Linked DNA regions of Homo sapiens: region 2 is linked to region 1. A link means that fine-mapping ties the variant in region 1 to the expression of a gene that starts in the linked region. Tissue or cell type: whole blood. Region 1 holds a variant in brackets; the other region holds the start of a gene. All regions are shown on one strand. Distances are from middle to middle.

Region 1 (8,111 bases):
GACCTTTGCCACTTTTCCTCCCACAGCTTTGCCATAGACGACGACGACGATGATGATGATGATGATGATGATATGATGTCTTTTTTTTGTTGTTGTTGTTGTTTTTTGTTTTTGTTTTTTTTGAGACGGGGCCTCGCTCTGTCTCACAGGCTGGAGTACAGTGGTGCGAGCTCGGCTCACTGCCATCTCCGCCTCCCGGGTTCACGCCATTCTCCTGCCTCAGCCTCCCGAGTAGCTGGGACTACAGGTGCCCACCACCACGCCCGGCTAATTTTTTGTATTTTTAGGAGAGACGGGGTTTCACCGTGTTAGCCAGGATGGTCTCGATCTCCTGACCTCGTGATCTGCCTGCCTCAGCCTCCCAAAGTGCTGGGATTACAGGCGTGAACCACTGCGCCCGGCCAATATGATGGCTTTTAAAAACAACAACAATCGTTGTTCTCCTTATAGGTTACCATTTGTGGGTGCTATGTTGAGTACTGGCAAACATTTCCTTCAGGCGCAATAAAAACTTTGAGACAGACAGTATTTTCCATGTTTTACAAATGAAGAGGATGAGACTCACAGAAACTACTACATTAAAACAATACATTTAAGAAGTAGTAAAAATGGTTATAATTTACTGAATGCTTAAATGTGCCAGACACTGTACTAAGGGCTTTGCAAAGGTTAACTCACAGCAGCCCCTTGAGGCAAGGCACCATCTCCATTTATAGATGAAGAAAATGGAGGTTCAGAGAACCCACATGACAATCAGAATTTGAACCAAGTTTTCTATCAGTCTTCCAACGAACAGCAATCCCTTATTTAATAGGAATACAGGAATTGTAATTGAAATTGTAGAGTTTTCAAAAGTAACTGTGTGATTACAAAGATCTTATTATGATGTGATAAAGATAAAGCCAGGTATAACCACCCTGAAAAGGTGCTGTATGACCTTCTGTGTCCAAAAATGCTTCCTTCACCAACTTGTAACTGATTCCTGAAGTTTCAGCGTTAAGGAATGTTTTCTTTTAGGAAGGAAAAGGGTTGGTTGGGTTTTATCCCATGTTTTGAAAGTAGGTTATTGGAATTTATGAGCTGTTTCCATTGTGATGTCCAATTGAGAGGTGATTTGGATATAATGGTGAATGAGAAGAGTCCCCTGAATAGAAGACTTCAGTTTCAGTCCTAAATGAAAACGGAAGGAGAAGCGATTTAAAAAAAGAAGGTAGAAAGACCCTGTGCCTAGCTTAACCTGCTGAACACTTTTGTTTTAGACAGCTTCTGTACATAGGACAAATGCTTAATTAGTGTGTCATTCAAGCAAATGACAATGTAATAAATGCTGTTCATTTGTCAACACTAGAAAAAGTTTTCATCCTAACATGCTTGCCGTACAAATCAAGGGAATTCAAGACAAACATACTCTGGTTCAAAACTAACTGACAAGGATAGTGACTTCTGATCTCAGTGTAAATTTGCTTAGTTCTAGCAGATAACATTATGAGGTGGGGGATCCTAATTTTTTTTTTTTTGAGACAGGGTCTCATTCTGTTGCCCAGGCTAGAATGCAGCGGCACCATCATAGCTCACTGCAGCCTCAATCTCCTGGATGCAATGATTCGCCCACCTAACACCTGAGTAGCTGGGACCACATATGCATGCCACCATGCCTGGCTAATTTTTTGAATTTTTTTGTAGAGATGGGGTCTCATTATGTTGCCCAGTCTGGTCTCTAACTCCTGGGCTCAAGTCATCCTCATGCCTTGGCCTCTCAAAAGTTCTGGGATTACAGGCCTGAGCCATCCCACTCATCCAGCTCCTAATATTTTAAAAACTCAACTTTATAAATATTTATTCTGTGCCTAATGCTAGAATACAGTGATGAATAGGATATGCCTCTTGTTCATAAGCAGTTCATAATCAATAAAATACCCTGTATTTGAGTGGTAATAATTTTGAGTGCTATGTGACTATAGAAGAGGAAGACAATACGATTCATGTAATGTACTTACATTATCATCTATATGTTCATATAGTGCCTAAGACCCAGTATTTTCCATATCTCCAAGTCAGCCCCAAAGTTAGTGGATATCCAGGGTGGTATATGAGCTAATATGAATAACAGCTATTGAGGGGTTTCTGGTTGGATTGGTGACAATGTAGGGTAGAAAGCAATGTACTTTTAATAATTCTTTCTACTTCTCTCAATATGGAGAATATATATTTGATTTTATATACCTACATAGAATTTTATTATGTTGTTTACTTTCTAGGTTACTGACATTAAAAGAATTATTTCTGCCTGAAAGATTTTTAATTCTTGATTCCTTTTTTCCTGTTTATTCTTTCTAATTCACCCACTCAATGACCCAGATTACCTATATCCCTAGTGAGTAGCCCCCACAAAAAGACACTCTGCAAACCAGGTAAACAGAAAATAAAAAACCACGAAGGATTTTTTTTTTTTTTTTTTTTGCCAAACTATAGTCATGACAACATAGGTTGATTATACAGGTGATATTTTATATTTACTTTAGTTTGCATTTACCCAATTGTATAATAAAATGGAGACTAACCATTTGTTTCATTGTAGCATTCCAAGAATCAAGCACTACAAAGTGATGAGCGTAGGACAAAACTACACTATTGAACTGGAAAAACCTGTAAGTAACTATTTTTGTTGTTGTTGATGAACTTCCTCCCGATTCCTTATAGCCTCCTAGTGCTGGCAAAAAGCAGCCAAGTTAAGGAGCCCTGAATGTGGCAGATATACAAGGTGAAAAGTGAGATTCAGGAACAGGTGGTGAGGCAGAGTAAAATATAATTTGCTTCTAAAAATTCTTTCCACTTTTCTTTTTCTGCAAATTTCTCAAGGTTTGCAGAGAAAGAAAAGTGGAAAAAATTCAGAGAAAGAAAGATACTTTTGTTAAACATTCTCCAATTATAAATCTTCAAATATGTTTATTTCTAATGGGAAGAAATCTGTAAATGCCTAATCCTCTAATACCTGTCTTGCTGAAGTTCAGAAATCCTCTCTTAATAGCAACATAGTAGTGAAGAAAGCATTTCTTATTTGTCTTGAACTCTTCTCCCACCCAAGCTGACTTACCATGGGGCTAATGATATAGCTAAGCACTTGACATATATCATCCAATGTAATTGTTATCATTACCCTGAGGTAGATATTGTTATGCCTTTTATACAGGTGAGATAATTGGTATTTACACTGTTCTGAACCAATGAGAATGTGGTGATGTGGCCTACATTCCAGGATGCTGAAAAAGAGAATATAGCTCTGTGATTTTAGGCTGCAGTAGTGGGAAGATTGAGTCAGGAAAGTTGTCTCTGGATATCTTAAATAGAACTGGTGGGTCTTGAAGATATTTATATTTACCTAGTTCCTCTGCTTCTCCAGGTCCATTGTGTTGATCAAGTAGAAAAAGGAACAGTGTGGTTGAATTTTTTATATTTTGGTCATAATTCTTAGAGAGCAAGGTAGCTGCTGATTCATAGAGCACACTTACATCTTTGCCATAAGTGCCTCCCAAAGCTTCTCAGTTATCAGATCCATTCCTGACTAGACTTTTAAAATAAAATTCAATAAAGAAGGCAGAAAACTAGATTGCTAAAGGATAATCCAAATAACTAAGTGACTACAAGCAATGGACAAGGAAGAATAATGTGTCATCTTTGTAACTGGGTAAACTGGGGCTCATTTCTGTCATTAGCTCATACAGTCTACAGTGTAAGGAAAACTAACAGCCTGGATTATTCTTTCATTTTTCACCCTCCCCAACCATACTCCTCAACCCCTCAGTAAGGTTGTATTTTTGTGATTTTTTTTTTTAGAGACAGGGGTCTTGCT[G/A]TGTTGCCCAGGCTTGAGCACAGTGGCTGTTCACAGGCACAATCATAGTGCCAGCCTGAAACTCCTGGGCTCAAGCGATCCTCCTACTTCAGCCTCCCGAGTAGCGGGAACCACAGGTGTGTACCACTGCGCCTGGCTCAGGAATTCTTTTTCCTCTTCAAGGTTATCTGGTATATTTATTCTGATTTCATTTGTATAAAAATATTAGTTTAGGGGTAGAGACACATTTTATCTACTCCTAGACCGGCAAATTATCCTGTTACAATAAAATACTAAAATGCTTAAATTCTCTGGTTTTAAAGGTTATTTGCTTTAAAGCATAAGAAACCAACTACAGCTAACTTAAGAAAAAATAAATTTATTATAAGAACATAGAATGACTGGAAGGGTAGCAAACCTTCAGGGACTAGGACGCAGTTACTTGTGCTAAGAACCATCTGATTAGGAAACTGGATCCTTCTTTGTTCTTCTACTCAAGTTCAAATTTCAGAAAGAAAGCATTTTCTAGCTAACTTGAGTCACATTTTTTGCTCCCCTCATTTTTTAAGGGACAGGGTCTTACCCTGTCACCCAGGCTGGGGTGCAGTGGCACTATCACAACTCATGCAGCCTCGAACTCCTGGACTCAAGGAATCCTCCTGCCTTAGCCTCCTGAGCAGCTGGCACTACAGGTGTAAGCTACCACACCTAGCTAATTTTTTCAATTTTCGTAGAGACAGGATCTCGCTATGTTGCTCAGGCTGGTCTGAAACTCCTGGTCTCAAATGATCTTCCCACCTGGACTTCCCAAAGTGCTGGGATTACAGGTGTGAGCCACCACACTTGGCTTACATTCTTATGCTTTAATTGAGGGAGAGCAAGGTACCTAACTATTGTCTACCAGATTGTATTCAATGGGAAAGGTGGTAATTCCTCAACAGAGAATGGACACATGGTCAATTAAAAAGGATAAATAAGACACAGGGATAGGTAAAACTATGGTCATACAGTAAGCCATTGAAGTGAAGTAATGACAGTAATCTCCATTAGATTCCAGTTGAGCCTTCTCTTACTCTATACTTATGCAGGTGATGCTGAGTTTTCTCTCACTCTCTATTAATACAGGTAACACTCCCAAACCTTTTCAGTGTCATTGATTATTTTGTGAAGGAGACTCGAGGAAATTTAAGACCATTTATATGTTCAACTGATGAAAACACTGGTATGTTTTTCACTTCATTGCTATGTTAAGGGAAACAAAACAAAACAAAACAAAATCCCCAAAACTCTGCATATGATTGATAGTACCAGCCAGGCAGGAACTGTAGTTCAGTCTTTAAATTTATCCATTTGGAAATCATTTTGTCACTCAGTCTGTGAAAATAGGAAAGTACCAATATGTATTATGAACAGAGTATGGGTGCATTTTAGGGAATGGAAAACCCTGAGGTATGTAGTATTACTATTAACTTCATTCTATCATTCTACTCAGCTTTATCTAACAAATTCAGAGGTAAGAGGAAACCATAATCATACAAGTTAATGGAAACCAAATGGAATTTAAAGGGATAGTCTGTCAACAACGTTAGATGCGTAATACAGGATAAAATGAATGAAGATTAAGAAGAGACGATGAAAACTGGTGATTAGCCAATAGATGACTTGAGAGAGAGAAGTTGTATTCCACTATGAAGGCAGAAGTCAGATTGCAAAATAACAAGGAATGAGTGGGTGGTGAGGAATTACAGATAAAGATTGTAGCTAGGACCAGCTACAGAATTTGCCAGCCCCTTGTTCATAAATTAAGAATTTCAAAAACAGTTATAGCAAACCATCAAACCGAGCATGAGACCCTATGCAACTGCACAGTTTACACACCCTTGAAACTGGCTCTCTTTGCAATCCAACTTCTGGCAGAGCAAGCCAGGCTGAATGTAATAGTCTCTCTCTATCTTATGCAACAGTTCCTGGTACACATGGTCACTGGCAAACTGTAAGCAGGAGAGAGAAAATATCTCCAGCTTGTGTGGATTTTAGTTATCAAAACAAGTCTCTTTTTCTACAGATTATGGGGGAAAGCAACCTTATTTGGCTATCTGCATTGGGGCATATCTGGATAGTCTTATTAATTAAAAGGATAGCAAGTTTAAAAGTCCAAGTTCTTAAAACATGATTATGAATATTGTGATGCTAAATAATAAGAGTAACCAAAACCACAGACTCTCAGGATCTGAAGGAACTTTAGAAAATTATAGTATCTTATCTGTTTAGAACTCACCTGCACATTCAGTACAGGAAACATCTCTAGGATATGACCCCTTCAGCTTGTTTGTAAATTGTGAATGTAAGAGGGCTTAAATTTGATTTTTGAAGCAGCACAGTTCACTTCTGGACAGTTCTCATATTAGAGAATTCTTCCTTGATATTGAGTCTGAAGCATTCCTTCAACTTCTACATATTAATCCAATTTCTGGCTTTGAAACAATACGACTTAAAAGGCCATCAAATATTTAAAAATGTCTACAATGTCTTCCCTCAGTTTTTTACTCTCTGTCATCTAAATTATTGGTTCCTGAATTTCTCTTACTCTCATCTTTGATGTTCTTTTTACATTGTCTAATTTTTAAACTTGTCACTTAAAATATAACCCTACTGAATAATAATGTTGAGCATCTTTTTATATGTTATTTGCCATTATATATTTTATCTGGGAAAGTATCTATTTAAATCTTTTGCCCATATTTTTATTGGGTTGTTTTTTCTTTCATGCTTGTTTTGAGAGCTCTGAACCGATACAAGCTTTTTGTGTGTGTGCATGTGTGTGATTGGGAAGTATTTTCTTAGTGGGTGATTTGTCTTTTCATTTTTTTAACAGTGTCTTTAGGAGAGCAGAAGTTTTAAATTTTGCTTCTGTAGATTGTACTTTGGTGTTATACCTGAGAACTCTGCCTAACCTAAAATCACAAAGACTATTTTCCTGTTTTCTTTTAGAAGTGCTGTGATTTCATGTTTCACATTTAGATCTATGATACATTTTGAATTATTTTTAAACTGGGAGGGATGTGTCAAGGTTCATTTAGTTGCATTTAGATGGGTAATTGTTCCAGCCCCATTTGTTTAAAAAGATTATCCCACTGAACAGGGCAGCCCACACCTATAATCCCAGCACTTTGGGAGGACAAGGCAGGAGGATCACTTTGAGAGCATCCTGGGCAACATAGGGAGACTTCGTTTCTACAAAAAAAAAAAAAAAAAAAAAAAAAAAAATGCTGGGTATGGTAGCACATGCCTGTAGTCCTAGCTACTTGGGAGGGTGAGGCAGCCAGAAGTTCAAGGTTGCAGTGCACTATGACTGTGTCAATGCACAATGTGAAAGGGCAAGAGTGAGACCCTTTCTCTAAAAAGTAAAAATAAAAATAAATGCTTCTCCATTGAATTGTCTTTGCAACATTTGTAAAAATCTGTTGACCATTTTTGTACGGATTAATTTCCAATGATATATGTTCCTACCCTTTTGCCACACTTACTATTACTATAACTTCGTAGTAATTCTTGAAATTAGGAGGATTAGTTTGTTCTTTGCTCTTTTCTTTTTCAAAATCGTTTGGACTAGTCTAGTTTCTTTGCCTTTCATTCTAAATTTTAGAATCATCCTGTTGCCATCCAGAGAACAATCCTCCTGAGACTTTGACTGGATTATGTCGAATCTGTTGATTAGTTCAGGAAGAACTGACATCATAATATTGAGTCTTCCAGTTGAAGAATGCAATATATTGGTACATTTGGGCTGTCCTTGATTTCTTTCATAGTACTTTGTTTCAGCATACAGCATTGGCACACATTTTGATTTATAGGTATTTAAATTTTTGTTGCTGGTAAATGATATTCTGTAACATTTGAATTCCATTGTTCATTGGTAGTGATATGGTTTGGCTGTTTTCCCACCCGAATCTCATCTCGAATCGTAATCCCCAAATGTTGAGGTAGGGACCTGGTAGGAGGCAATTGGATCATGGGGCCGGTTTGCCCCATGCTGTTCTCCTGATACTGAGGGAGTTCTCATGAGATCTGATGGTTTTAAAGTGGCCATTTTCCCTGTGCTCTCTCTTTCCTGCCACCTTGTGAAGACGTGTCTTGCTTCCCCTTCACCTTCTGTCATGATTGTAAGTTTCCTGAGGCTTCTGTAGCCATGCACAACTGTGAGTCAGTTAAACCTCTTTCTTTGATAAATTACCTAGTCTCAGGTAGTATCTTTATAGCAGTGTGAAAATGGACTAATACA
Region 2 (8,111 bases), 33 kb before region 1:
TAAGAAAGAAATCGTGCAAAGTGCTTTGGGAAAGCAGAAATGAGAGTAATAACTTTTTTTTTTGTGGGGGTGAAGAAAGCTTCAGGAAATTAGGAGATGTTCAGAATTAAGGATAGATTCAGCCTGGGTCTTGAAGGACGAGTAGGACATTACCATATAAACAAAGAGAAGGAGGGGCATCTAAGCAGAGTACAGTGACTGAAAAGGTATGAGGAGACAGGGAAGATCATAGGGTATTCAGGCAACTGAGACTAAATGAAATTACCAGAGCAAAGGGTATTTTGAGGAGTTATTATTTAAAAGGGGCCCTGCTATAAAGGACCAACGTGCCATGCTTGAGCCCATTGTTGGTATTCAATAAGTATTTAGTGTTCAATAAAAAATATTTAAAAAGGAATCTCAAAAGCAATGAGAATCCTTTAAAGTCTTTTCAGTAGGGGAATATCTTGATTAGGTTGAATATTAAATGAATCAAAGAAGAAAAAGAGTGGAAACTAGGAGACTACTTAAAAGCCTTTTGCAGCTCTTCAAACAATAAGTCATGTAGTCCATCGCCTCCTTGTATAGGTGAGGAAGCTATGATACCAGAGAAGTCAAGTGGTTTGTTCAAGGTCTCAAGAGCTGGTTAGTAGCAAAATTAGTTTATGCCCTATGTCCAAACATATTTTCTACTATATTTCCTTACCTACAAATTTATTCTTCACTGCCTAAGACTTGAGGTATCTGTAAGAGGATTTCCATTGTAATGGTGCAGTGGTGCAATGACACTAGTCATTGCAGACAGGACTAACTTGTTAATATTGTTTAAGCAAGATTTTTGCATTTTGTAGTCTTTTTCAGGGAGATATAATTTGATTCTTGGTATATTAAGAATGAATTTGACGAACAAATCAGCAGACCAAAGTAACTTACTGTGTCTGATTAGCTGTTTTTAAATTGTTGCTTATATTTTAAAGGCAAAAAAAAAACTAAGTGCTTATTTAACAACAACAAAAAATCCCCTTTACATTTTTTTAGAGGTATTATTTTCTCTCACCTATGAAACTTTCTGACCATAAAGTCAGTGCGTAATCACTGATGATTCCCAGCATTCTTTCTTTATCCTTGCTTCTTTTCATTTTTCAATTCTTAATCCCTCCTTTCACTTCCCCCCTGTATTACAACAACTAACAGCTGCCAAGAAAGTGGATTAGGTCATATATTCAATCAGGAGGTTTTCCTGTTATTCAAGTCACTTTCTTAGTATACCGAAACTAAAAAATAGTTATGGTTTTTGCCTCAAAAAATTCAGTTGGACTTATATTTTATTATTTGAAGGTTGGGTAGCAAGAAGCAGGTCTAAACTTACAAAAGCAAAGCAGTCATTTTGGATCTTCAACTCCCTATTTCTGTCTTGAGCTGTTTTCATTTTGATAATACATCTGAACACTCTTCTCTAACTTACTGATAATCAGTCCGTATTGTTCTACCTCACTTTGTAGACAATTTGTCATCCCATATCTACAGCTGCAGGATCAGTGGGACCCATACTGGTGGAGAAAACCATGCAGTCTCTCCATTAGGAAAGGAGAATCAGACTGAAGACTCCTGACTTGCTTTGATTTCTAATAATAGGCTGGTCTCACTGGGCCCAGGCTGTTCTAAATCTAGAGTAGTTCTGAAATACTGAGTGTGAAATAGGCAATGGTAGAAATTCTTAGGACCCCTGTAAGACAAATCAAAATTCCTTCTAGTATTCTTTTCTCCCATCATTTCCTGCACTGTGCTACGCCAAATCCAATCTCTTAAGGACCATTTCCTACATGCAACCATTGAGTGCACTTTGGCCCCAGTATAGCTTTATAAATCTCACTAGATAACTGTGGGAAGTCCATCCATGAATCATAGTATCAATGGTCTGCAGCTCAGAAAGCACAAAAGAACAAAATAAAAGTTTGAAAACTTACAGCTTTCTCTGCCAGATATTTTTTTGCCAAATATCTTAGACTCCTTTGTGTTGCTGTAACAGAATGCCACAGACTGGTAATTTATAATGAACAGAAATGTATTTCGCTCATGGTTCTGGAGTCTGGAAGTCAAAGAACATGGCCAGCATCTGATGAGGACCTTCATGCAGCATCATTCCATGGCAGAAGATAGAAGAGCAAGAGAGGATGATAGCATGTGAGAAAGTGCCAAACTTGATTTTATAAAAAACCCACTTCCAGGCCAGGTGCAATGGCTCACACATGTAATCCCAGCACTTTGGGAGGCCACAGCAGGAGAATCGCTTGAGCCCAAGAGTTTGAGACCAACCTGGGCAACATAGGGAGATACTGTCTATACAAAAAATGAAAAAGTTAGCTAGGAGTGGTGGCGCGTGCCTTGTAGTCCCAGCTACTTAGGAGGCTGATGTGTGAGGATTGTTTGAGCCTGAGAGGTCAAGGCTGCAGTGAGCTGTGATTGCACCAGTGTATTCCAGCCTGGGCAACAGAGCAAGACCCTGCCTCTGAAAAAAGAGAAAGAAACCCACTCCCACAGCATTAATTAATTCATTCATTCATGAGGGCAGAGGCCTCATGACTTAATCACCTTCTAAAAGTCCCATTTCTAAACACTGTTGCATTGGGGATTAAGTTTCTAACACATAAGTTTTGGAGGACACATTCAAAACATAGCACTAAATATTCATTGGGAACTCATGTACTTGGAATATCTACTGGCAAAAAAAAAAAAAAAAGAAAGAAAGAAAAAAGAAAAAAATTCCATATTCCGTGTTCCCATAATTGTGGTTTATATTTAGTGAAGCATCAAATGAGCATGAGATACAACTATTTTTTTTATTTACACAAAACTTGACCCTAAAATATTTAACCAACAGAAGTAGTACTAATAAAATTATTCTATGAAGTAATTTTTAATGAAGCTGAGTTTATTCAAGTCATGTCTTCTGCAAATAAAAATGGACACCAATAAACAAAAACAAAGATAGAAAGAATAACTGTGTTCTTGATATCTCCCCTAAAGTTCACAATCTCTACACCTGTTTCTTTCATCTTCTGGTGATGTTAATCTTCTGTTTATTTTGCGCTTTAAATCTAAGCACATGTGGATTACCCAGAGATTGCCCTCTGAAAGTCAGTCTACACCTGTTCTTTCTTACCTCACAAAAAGTAATGGAAAAAAAAGTGTGTGTGTGTGTGTGTGCGTCTGTGTGTGTGTGTGTCCTGTTGGTGGTAGTGTTGGTGGTTAAAAAGCAATTTGGGACTTCCTCTTTGAACAGTTGCCTTTTCCTCTCACAGAAGGAAGATTTCATTTTGTTTGAGACGAGAAACCAAACCACACACCAAAGAGAGGGGTATGATGGCTAAGAAGCCCCCAAAACCAGCCCCTCGCAGGATCTTCCAGGAAAGGTTAAAGATTACTGCTCTACCTTTGTACTTTGAAGGTTTTTTATTAATCAAGCGGTCAGGATACCGGGTGAGTCTATAGATGATAATGTTAAACCTAAGACTTCTGTTTTAATTTAATATTTATTTCATGGTGATGTGATGTGTTAAGACCTCCTTGTTTCTGTTGAAATTAAATCATCTTCTCTTCTTTGAGCTCAGAAAAATGATTCCAATTTTTCATAATTTAAATACAATGTCTGGCTTAAACCTGTATGTATACACATATATAATATGTATAATAACAGAGGTTGTAATATTAAGGCACTAATATAAAAAAGTCAATAAGCTAAATTTCCAAAGAATTTATTTAAATATCACAAAAGATTTTGGCTTGGGAGATAAAATGTTTCTTGTATTTTCTCCACAATTTATTGCTATGCTTCAATGATGACATGTACCATTAAGATAAAATGATATCATGATTAAAATTAAACCTGCTCCTGTTCTGAGTCATTTGAAGTTTATAATGATCAAATTATTAAAAATGGCTTTTGTAAAAATTGTTAAAATGACAAAGTTCATACTGTTTAACATTATATATAGTTATGTGTTCTAAAATACTATTCAAGATAGTGACTTTTAATTTTTGGGGTACTACTGTGGGTATTAAGTACACTAAGCTACATAAATACCTTTGCTCTAAGAAAATCCATGAAGCATTCTGTATTTTTAAATGTAATAATTAAAACTTATAGTTAGTTAAAATCATTACTTTTAAAACAGTAATTATGGATGACTTGAAATTAATTAGAGAAATAAGCCCAAAATTGCCTGTTATTAAATAAAAAAATCATTAAGTTAGGTCAAATTTTATGAAATTGTATACTGACTAAAACTAGAAAAATTTTAAGGTTTTCAGAAATTCCATCAGAAATGTTTAATGATGCTAAAATATATTTTCTGAGGATTTATGAATACTTGTGGAAAAATTATATATATGAAAAATCTATAATAGCATATTCACATTTCTTACATATATAATCAGATCATTTACTATTTGAGAGTAAAGACATGGTAATTTGTATTCTGTTATGGATGTTAAACATGCATAAATAATTACCTTTCAGTTATATTAGAATTTTTTAGATTGATCCTATATGCTTTTAATGTAAATTCAATCTTGTCACCACAGGTAAGCCACATAGTCACACTTTGCCAGGAAAGGGAAGTTGAGAAAAAAAAATTCTAATTAGTAATTTAAATCAGGTTGTTCATTGAATGTTTTCCAAGGTATTTATAATAACTGTTTATGATAGCAGTTTTTTTTAAATGCTTAAAGAAGACATGTCATTGGTATGGTTAGCAGAAAGAATAAGAATTTTAGAGTGTCCTTTATCTGATGGTTTTGCCACTTATAGCTTGTGATCTTGTGCAAGTTACTCAATCTCCTTGAGACTGTTTCAACTATAAGATAGAGAGTATACTACTTGCTACTTGCCTCCTAAGGTACATTCTAGGATTCAGTAGGTGTTCAATCAATTTATTCACTCAACATTTATTGTGTGCCTCCTATGCACCAAGCATCACTCATTTCTGGAGAATATGGAAAAAAACACAAAGATTTTATTTTCAAGAGGCTTAATATAGTAGGAATGATGTCTTCCTTACCAAATTTCTACTCTTTACCTTCTCTTAGAAAGCATTCTTTGAAGCAGAATGAATACCTATAGGCATAAATATTTCCAATGAAATTAACTTGTGTTTCTATTTGAATTTATAGTAAAGTATCTTTGTGTGTGTGGGTGTGTGTCTGTGTGTGTGTGTGTGTGTGTGACAGTGTCTCCTCTGTTGCCCAAGCTGGAGTGCAATGGTGCAATCACTAGTCATGCAGCCTTGACATCCCCGGCTCCGGTGATTCTCCTGCCTCAGCCTCCTGAGTAGCTGGGACTACAAGCGCATACCACACCCGGCTAACGTTTGTATTGTTTATAGAGACAGGGTTTCATCACGTTGTTCAGGTTGGTCTCAAACTCCTGGGCTCAAGCAACCTGCCCACCTTGGCCTCCCAATGTGCTAGAATTACAGGCATGGGCCTCTGAGTTAGACCACTAAGTACCTTTTACTTGTATGTCAGGGAGAAGAGAGCAAGAGGATGACAATAATACCTACTTATGTGGTGGTTTCAGGGATTAAAGGGATAGCATATGTAAAACACCTGGCTCACACTAAAGGTTAGATTCATTCTCTTACCCTTTCATCACTTATCATACTCTTATTCAGGTACTAAAATTAGTTTGAGGTCTGCAAGTAATATGACTCCAAGGAGAGTGAGCATGGTGATAATTAGAGTACTTGAAAATAGAAGCTATGAGAAAAATCTAAGCAAAATAAGTGGAATTTCCAAGCAATTGGCAGCAAAGTGCCAGGGAATCTTTGAACAGAAGGTGAGCCAAAGGTATATAGCCAAGTAATCTTTGGAGCTGATTGGCTAGAGGAAGGTGAGAGGCTCTGCAGAATGTAAAGTTGGGTCTCTGCCAAAGTCATTCAGAACATTTAAACTAGAAAAAATATAACTGAAGAGTAACCTGGTCTATAAAGGCATGAAATGCTGAGAGGTGCTTCTTAGCTATTTTTTGTGGGGCACTTTTAAGTATTTAAAGAGCTTTTCCCCAGGAAAATGTAACAACGTATACCATTTTGCATGCAATTCTAGAAGGTTTCTAAATCTGAGGTCAAGAACCCATGAAAAACACATAATCTTTATGGAAAAGATAATGTGGGAAGATTTATTTAAGCCACAGCACTAGGATTCTGAATTAACCAGGAAGATGTGTTTATTATCAAAGCTGTTAAATGCCACAGTGGAATACCATTGGCATCGCAGTTCTTACAAATGGGAAAATTTCTCATTTTTTCTGGGACCGTTTGAAAATAAGAGAGAGTGTGGGTGGGCCGGGAGCGGTGGCTCATGCATGTAATCCCAGCACTCTGGGAGGCCCAGGTGGGCGGATCACGAGGTCAGGAAATGGAGACCAACCTGTTCAACATGGCGAAACCCCGTCTCTACTAAAAATACAAAAATTAGCAGGGCATGGTGGCACGCACCTGTGGTCCCAGCTACTCGGGAGGCTGAGGCAGGAGAATCACTTGAACCTGGGAGTCAGAGGTTGCAGTGATCCGAGATCGCGCCACTGCACTCCAGCCTGGCAATAGAGCGAGACTCTGTCAAAAAAAAAAAAAAAAAAAAAAAGAAAGAAAGAGAGAAAGAAAGAAAAGAAAAAGAAAGAAAATAAGAGATAGTTTGGGCAACGTCTCATAATTTCTTCAATCTGTGATGTGCTAAAGTAAAAAAAAAAAACAGTGTGTGTGGGCCGGGCCCGGTCCCAGCTATTCGGAAGGCTGAGGCAGGAGAATCGCTTGAATCTGGGAGGCGGAGGTTGCAGTGAGTCAAGATCGTGCCACTGCACTCCAGCCTGGGTGACAGAGCGAAACTCCGTCTCAAAAAAAAAGGAAATTTTTTAGGGCTGTCTAAGTTGTGCTCACACACAGTTCTCTATGGCAGTAATCTCCAAATTTTAAAATAACACACTCCTTTCAGGAAAACATTTTGAGCACAGATCCCTAATATAAGAATATTAATTCAGCCGGGCGTGGTGGCTCACGCCTGTAATCCCAGCACTTTGGGAGGCCGAGGCGGGCGGATCACGAGGTCAGAAGATTGAGACCATCCTGGCTAACAAGGTGAAACCCTGTCTCTACTAAAAAAAAAAAAAAAAAAAAATTAGCCGGGCGAGGTGGTGGGCGCCTGTAGTCCCAACTACTCAGGAGGCTGAAGCAGGAGAATGGCGTGAACCCAGGAGGCGGAGCTTGCAGGGAGCGGAGATTGCGCCATTGCACTCCAACCTGGGCAACAGAGGGAGACTCCATCTCAAAAACAACAAAAAAAGAATATTAATTCATTTGGAAATTATAAATATATATATTCCCGTACTATTAATCCATGTAAATTATTTGATATATAAAAAATGAATTAAGAAATATGAAATAAAATATAATTAAATATTCTAAAATTTTCTCTCCCAATGGATCATCTTGCACACCTTTGGAATTTATGCATCCCATTTTGGAGACCACTATACAACATTCTTCCTTAGGTAAATGTACTTTACTTGCGCACAAAAACAAAGAATGAGAGCTTTTTATTGGGGACAGAGGAAGAGAAACTTAACTGGAGCTTGCATTGTAATTCATTTTTGCTAGTTAATTCATTTTTGCTAGTTGTATTAATGAGAAAAGAGCACTGGGAAGTCAAGAGATAAAAGTATCAGTCCAATTCTAGAATTTGGGCGATTCCTTCACATTTTTAAATCTGTTCTCTCCTTTCTAAAAAGAATAATTACTCTCTTGCATAGCTGAATAGGTTGCTCCAATGACTAAGTGGACTATATAATAATGAATGCAACCTTTTGAGGTATAACATATAATGGATCCCATTCTAGGCTCTTAGTGTTCTGTCACTGTGATCCTTACAGTAACTCTTCTGGGTAGAAATTATTTTATTCACTTCACAAATGAGTGAGTAGGTGAGGCATGCTGGCTCATCCCTGTAATCCCAGCACTTATGGAGGCCAAGGCAGGAGGATTGCTTGAGGCCAGGAGTTGGAGATCAGCCTAGGCAATATAGCGAAACCCCATTTCTACAAAATCAAAAAATTAGCCAGGCGTGGTGGCACACCCTGT

Evidence for each region. PIP is the estimated chance that this variant, and not a neighbour inherited with it, causes the effect.
Region 2: it holds the start of STAP1, and the variant in region 1 is fine-mapped to the expression of STAP1 in whole blood (TOPMed, PIP above 0.99).

The regions. Positions count from the first base shown.
Region 1 is chr4:67,588,306-67,596,416 of GRCh38, forward strand. It overlaps STAP1 (signal transducing adaptor family member 1), which reads left to right. Exons shown (of 9, transcript NM_012108.4): 7 at 2,579-2,648; 8 at 4,955-5,051. Among named protein-coding and RNA genes, the nearest start is that of STAP1, 34 kb to the left of the region's middle. The variant G/A (reference allele first, on the strand shown) is at 3,851.
Region 2 is chr4:67,555,471-67,563,581 of GRCh38, forward strand. STAP1 (signal transducing adaptor family member 1) reads left to right here and starts at 3,257. Exons shown (of 9, transcript NM_012108.4): 1 at 3,257-3,459. The coding sequence starts at 3,340.